Linked DNA regions of Homo sapiens. The protein of the gene in region 1 purifies or fractionates together with the protein of each later gene. This does not show direct contact. Each region holds a gene or a part of one and is shown in the gene's direction. Other genes may lie near its edges. The genes, in order: HEBP1 and SNX3.

Evidence for each region.
Region 2: the proteins of HEBP1 (region 1) and SNX3 fractionate together in Homo sapiens (co-fractionation; one large-scale study listed by BioGRID). This does not show direct contact.

What each region holds. Positions count from the first base shown.
Region 1 is NC_000012.12:12,979,475-12,983,299, reverse strand, and holds part of HEBP1 (heme-binding protein 1), read left to right. Parts: intron 1-2,737; exon of another isoform or gene 2,738-3,300; intron 3,301-3,411; exon of another isoform or gene 3,412-3,463; intron 3,464-3,677; exon of another isoform or gene 3,678-3,825.
Region 2 is NC_000006.12:108,213,160-108,216,143, reverse strand, and holds part of SNX3 (sorting nexin-3), read left to right. Parts: intron 1-1,521; coding exon 1,522-1,646; intron 1,647-2,984. UniProt on the Homo sapiens protein: Phosphoinositide-binding protein required for multivesicular body formation. Specifically binds phosphatidylinositol 3-phosphate (PtdIns(P3)).

The sequences.
Region 1 (3,825 bases):
AGAGGCAATAGAATTATCCTCACACTTAGACCAGCAGCAACATTCCAGACTACTGTCCTTTCTCTATGCACTTAAGTTAGAGTTTGGCCTTTTCAGCTCATTTCAGCACCAGGTTCTCAATAGGGACCAACAGCAGGAGAAGTTTGATGGTCTTAATGAAACTTTCACGGTTTAAATGAAATGTCTAGATATAAAGGAAAAAGTTGGAAACCAGGAGTTTATTTTCAGGGTAACCTATGCTCCAACCCAGTTCATCATTCAGTGGCCATAGGACCTTTGGTATATTGCCAGCCTCACTGTACCTCAGTTTCCTCATCTGTAAGATGGGCATGAGTACCTAGCTTTTATGGTGTTGTGAGGATAAAATATGATAATACCTGTAAATACCTACTCAATCCTAGACATGAGGTAGACACTCAGTAAATGTTAGCCTATTCTCCTCCTCCTAACTTCACCTCCCTTTGAGAATTTGATCAAGTTTTATTAGAATTAACAATAAAAAAGTCAAAGTTACTGCAGATACACTTGGGTTAGAACCTCAGCTCCAATAATTATGAATTTTGTAACTTGCAGCAAGTTGTTTAATCTTTCTGAGCCTCAGTTTTCTCATCTATAAAATAAGATTTCTAAGGCATGATTGCAAAGGCCGGTTTCATTGTGCATTTGAAAGAACTTTGTCAGCTGTCAGCACCTAGGTTGCTGATGTCATTTTTCCCTCTAAATGACCAGGCCCCAATGGAGGCCATTGGCAGCTTGGGAAGTTCCGCCTAGAGAAAGAGAAGTTTGGAAGAAAGAGCTCAACTGCTAAACTCTTAGGGGGTTCCCACATTACCACTTAGGAGATTTACAGACCAGTGTTTGCCCATGTTCCTAGATAATTCAACCCTGTTTGTAACCACAGGAAGTTGGGACCAAGGGTTTTCAGTCTTAGCACCCTGCTTTGCCCCCTCACTTTGATTAAAAGGGGCCTTGTCCAGCCGTTCTATTGAAAATAGCACCCTGTCCTTTTCTGTCCTCTTATCCAGCTTTATTTTGCTTTGCTTCACTTATAATCAATTGCATTATATATCTCTATCTGCTCATTTATTTATTGCCCTCTCCCCACTAGAATGCAAGCTTCCCAAGGGCAGGGCCTTTGGCTAGAATATAACAAGTGTTCAATAAGAAGCTGTTGAATTGGCCATCACAGTGGCTGACATCTGTAATTCTAGTACTTTGGGAGGCCAAGGCAGGTGGATCACCTGAGCTTAGGAGTTCGAGACCAGCCTGGGCAACATAATGAGACCCCGTCTCTAAATAAAAAACAAAAACAAGTTGGTGAATGGATACATGAACAAAAGAGCTTCATCCTTGCCTCTCCTGTGCTTCTCTCTCTCTGCTCTGTCCCATAAAGATCTTGGTCCCCATCATAGCTTCAGCTGTCACCAGTGTGTTGGTAACTTTCCAGCCTAACCTCTGTCTGTCTCCCCTGAATGTCTTGCCATCCCATCAGACTCAGCATGGAGCCTGAGACAATGTGATTTACCCACTCGTTCATTCCTTCATTCAAAAGATAGTGGATTTCTTGTTCACTTACTCTGTACCAGGAACTATTTTAGGTGTCTAACAGTAAAATGGACGTCATGAGGTAATGTCCTTGCCCCTGGAAGAATTCAAGTGCCATCTGGATAGATGGGTGACACTTATGCCATGTGACATTTGCACTAGGTGGGAAGTTTGGTTTGATTTGACAAACATTTATTAAATATCTCTAATATTTAAGCCACCTCATGTCCAAAAGCCTTGCCAATGATAAGATTCTGTGTCTCAGCCTAATTAATCACCATTTTCTCTCCCCCTGATAGCTGTCAGTTATCCCGTAAGTCTTTTATAAACTCCCACCAGGCAAGGGCTTCAGGCTGTTTCTCTGTAGATGATGCCCGGGTCAACACGTCTCATGCTGCCTTCTCTCCTAAGCACCAGCCTTATATTTCCAGCTCCCAGGAGGCATCACCACCTCAAGTATCTCCCAAATCAGCATGTCCAAAACACAACGCAGATTTCCACGCAAAATCAGATCCCTTTCTGTGTTCTCTGTCTTAGTGATGGTCCCCTCCCTCCTCCTACCCACCCTGTTCCAATGTCATTCTGACTCCTTCACTTCTGCATCTAATTATTGGCTCATCCTGGTCAGCTCCCAGCTGTCCCTTCCTTCCCTTCCATCTACACAGGTCTTCATCATCTCTTGCACAAATGATTGCCATGGTATTGGCTTCCAGCTCTCCCATTTCTGACCCTTCTAAAGTGTCCTTTTATCACCACCTGCCTAAGGCACAGGACTGATCACATCGCCTGTCTTTGCTCAGAAACTGAGCCTCCCCAGAGGCTGCTCAGCTCTGGTTGGGGGCCTCAGGCCCATCCAACCAGATGTTGGGGTTTGAACAAAAGCCCAGTTAGTAATGAGATGCTTCATTTCCACTAGGAGAGGGTGGATCAACTTTGGGTGCCAAATGTTTGACCAGGCAGTAAAGCCTAGTAAAAATGCCCTGTGATGGCACTGACCACCCTCCACACATAGCACCACTCCCATGTCAACCTGATCTCAGAGCGTCCCACCCACCACCACCCAACATGCCTCCCACCCCAGACACAACATCCACTTCCAGACCTTTGCTCATATGTCCCCAGCTCCTCTCAACCCTCCACAGCCTCTGTTTGTTGGAAGCTCTGTGAGGACAGAAGGTTGTCATACTATTCATTGCCAGCATCAAGAAGAGATATTGTATTTCCAAACAAGGTCACATACACAAAAAAAGTAGAGATGCTCAATAAATGCTTAATATCACCTCTTTCTTAATACCTTCCCTTCATGTTCTAAGTCAGAACCCATCATTCGCTATTCCTCACCCCCAGAACATTCTGGATGTACCTTCCACCTTCATTCCAGCATTTCCTTCCAGCCAGCATAATCTTTGCATGTGTTTCTCTCCTGACCACACTTAGAGCTCTCGAGGGTAGAAAGACATCTTTATCATCCTTACAGCTCTTATGGTGTCTGGCTTGCATTTTGTGCTCAGTGATGTTCAACTCAATAAGCACAGGTCCAGCCTGGTTGAATGAAACGCTTATTGTGTGAAGCCTCTCTTCCTGTTGCAGTGAGGCTGTCAGTTCCTGGTCTGATACTTCTTTTGCCTAGCACAGGGCTGCATGCATAGCAGACCGTACACCAGTGTGTGCTGATCCATTGATGTTAAAGTTTCGAAGTTGAATGGTCAAGCTCAGAGTCATTCTTCCTCCCTGCATGCCTGCACCAGACACTCCCTAAAAAATAACACATTATGATTTTTTGCTTCCTTGGACGAAAGCCCCACTTCCCTCCACTAGCCTTCACTATTGCTTGTGTCATCTTTCCCCTTTCTAACTCTTCCAGACCTTTTGAGTCAGCTCCTGTTGTGTTTCTGGAATCAGGGGTGTGTGTATGTTTGAGATTCCTCAGTTCCCATGGTAACCAAATTCTTTATTCAGAATACTGAGCTCTGACATTGGGTGAGATAAAACACTGCCCTGGAGGAGAGCTTCTTTCAAGATGAGGCGTTTATAGATAAAGACGTATTCACAGGCTTACAAAGATAATGTATAGACTTCACGTTTCTTTCTTTTAGGGGCTCAAAGCACTTTATGAGCATTTCTTAACTCACCTTCAAGTGCGCGCAGGAATTCGGAGAGCAGTGGGCCCACTGTTATTGTGCTCCATGTCCAGATTGGAAGCTGAGGCACGAACCAATGAGGCAAAGTGTCTGTGAACACAAGCAGAGTCAGCCAGAGCTAGGCTCCCTTCATACACCA
Region 2 (2,984 bases), on another chromosome or scaffold:
GATCGCACCACGGAACTCCAGCCTGGGTGACAGAGCAAGACCCCATCTCAAGAAAGAAAAGAATGCACAAGAAAGCCCCCCAGTACAAAACTTATCTGATTCTCAGTAGTGCTAGGGTAGAGAAACCAAACTAACCTGTGAAATAGCTAGGTGCTATTTAATCAAAACAAGTATTTTGAGCTCCAGAATAACATTTTTAAAAATTTATTTTTTTTTTAAGACGGGGTCTCGCTGTCACCTAGGCTGGAGTGCAGCGACATTTTAGTTCACTCCAGTCCTGAACTCCTGGACTCAAGTGATCATCCCACTTCCGCCTCCTAAGTAGCTGGGACTACAGGCTCACACCACCACACCCAGCTAAGTTTTTTTTATTTTTGTAGACATGTGCCCAGGCTTGTGTCAAATTCCTGGCCTCAAGCAATCCTCCCGCCTGCCTTGGCCTCCCAAAGTGCAGGGATTGCAGATGTGAGCCACTGCACCTGGCCCAGAATAATATTTGAGCTCCAGATAATTCCCAGAAGGGAGAGATCAGCAGGAGTTGACCCTTGGTTAGGCTTTGAAGGGGAAAATTTGGGATCTTCCTATAGTGCGAGAAGGGAGAAATGACAGGTCTTTGGGAAAAGACAGCAGGATAGGGCATTTGGGAGAAAGTTGACTTGTTTCTTAATTTAGGAAACAGAATAGTGACAACTAGAGTTATTGGTATTTTGTCATCACCTCAAACACAAGTAGGAAAGACTGTATGCAGATGGTAAGAGGTTGAAGAAACCAGAAATCTTTTTTTTTTTTTTTTTCTAGACGGAGTCTCACTCTGTAGCCCAGCTGGAGTGCAGTGGCGTGATCTCCACTCACTGCAAGCTCTGCCTCCCGGGTTCATGCCATTCTCCTGCCTCAGCCTCCAGAGTAGTTGGGCCTACAGGCGCCCGCCACCACGCCCGGCTCATTTTTTGTATTTTTTAGTAGAGACAGGGTTTCACCGTGTTAGCCAGGATGGTCTCGATCTCCTGACCCTGTGATCTGCCCGCCTCGGCCTCCCAAAGTGCTGGGATTACAGGCATGAGCCACCACGCCCGGCTGAAACCAGAATTCTTACCTAACCATGTTGCAGAGAGAACATTAACGTTTCTTCATTTAATTGAGAGTTGATTTTGATCTCTGCAGTTTCCATTGCAATAAGGCATTGCCTTCTCCAAGTGGCATCACAAGTGTCTGAGGGGCATGGTAACCTTTATTTCAGTGTTGTGAGTGTTCTCTTTGTATACCTGGGCTTTGATAAGGCCAAGAAAAATGATATAAGCTATGGGCCCTGCCTTTGAATTAGGAGCTTTTGTCTGATGGGCTATTCTGCATTTGTCTAAACATTTGGTCTTTTTTCAGTGTATTTTTTGCTCTTTTATATTTCAACTAGTTTGACCGGACGATGGCTGTCATAGTGAGGACATGCTTTGTCTTCATGTTGTGCTCTATAAATTTTCACAACCCAGTCATCATGATCAAGGAGTTTCTGTCTTCACATTTTAGGTCGTAGTTCCCCCGCTCCCTGGGAAAGCGTTTTTGCGTCAGCTTCCTTTTAGAGGAGATGATGGAATATTTGATGACAATTTTATTGAGGAAAGAAAACAAGGGCTGGAGCAGTTTATAAACAAGTAAGTGCTTCCTATTCCTCAAAGTGTAGGACTACTTTAAGTGACTACTTGTAGTTTAGATGTTAAGCTAAACTGCACTGTTGCCTTTTCTTTCAGCCATTTCCTAACTTTTCATATCATTTAAACAAAGTAAAAGTATCTGACAAGTTGAATATCATGTGATAAATATTAACACATTTGAGTGATTGAAATGAGCATCTTTGTGTTGACCTACGTTTTGTATTTGTTTTTCTTGGTTAATTTATGCAAATTACATTTAAAATTACGGCATTTAAAAAATACAGTTTTACTTATGATTCTTTCTGATTTAAGGTATGTTCTAGCATGAACAATAAAACTTACAATGTACTTGCAATCATCTTGTTTGATTGCAGATGGAGGTATTAGCATGTCTTGTATAAAGGTGCATGTTTTTAATTTTCATGGTAAAATGTATTCTTTTGAAAATGTAAGAAGACTTAGGATTGTTTCTTTTTTACTTTAGAAACTCTTGATAAGCTCAAACCAATATTTTTAGCTTTTAATTTTATTCCCATTTGAAATATAGCTATTTTGTAAAATAATAGAAAGCCAGAGTGTTAGAAAGATTTATGCCAAGAAAGACCTCACTGTAATTGTGCATTGGCCTTAAACTAGCAAAAGTAAATCAAATCGTACAGAATATGGTAATGTGAGCTTACACTGTAAATTTTATCTAGTGATTTGAAGATCCATGAGTGGTAAACAGGAGAGAAAGGGTTACATAAAGCCCTTGGTTATCTACTGTAGCACTCAATATTCATTGTCTGTGAATCTGTTTTCCTTTTGGAGAAGGCAGTACTATATTAGATTTTTTTTTTTTTTTTTTTGAGACAGTCTTGCTCTGTCGCCCAGGCTGGAGTGCAGTGGTGCAGTCTCGGCTCAGTGAAACCTCCACCTCCCAGGTTCAAGTGATTCTCATGCCTCAGCCACCTGAGTAGTTGGGATTATAGTTGCGCACCATCGTGTCTGGCTTATTTTTGTATTTTTAGTAGAGACAGGGTTTCGCCATGTTGGCCAGGCTGGTCTCAAACTCCTGACCTCAAGTGATCTGCCTGCCTTGGTCTCCCAAAGTGCTGGGATTACAAGCATGAGCCACCACGCCTGGCCTATATTAGATATTTTTAAATTCTGAAATAATAGTCCGGTTGCCCAGTGTGGTTTTAAGCAGGCAAAAACAAACAAAATACCTGGATATTTGTGCCTGTTTTTTTAGTATTTTGGGCTTTTATTGAACTTCATTGTATTTCTAACTTCAATCCTGTATCTTCTCCTCTTTAAAATAGACTCTGGCCTGGTACAGTGGATCATGTCTGTAAT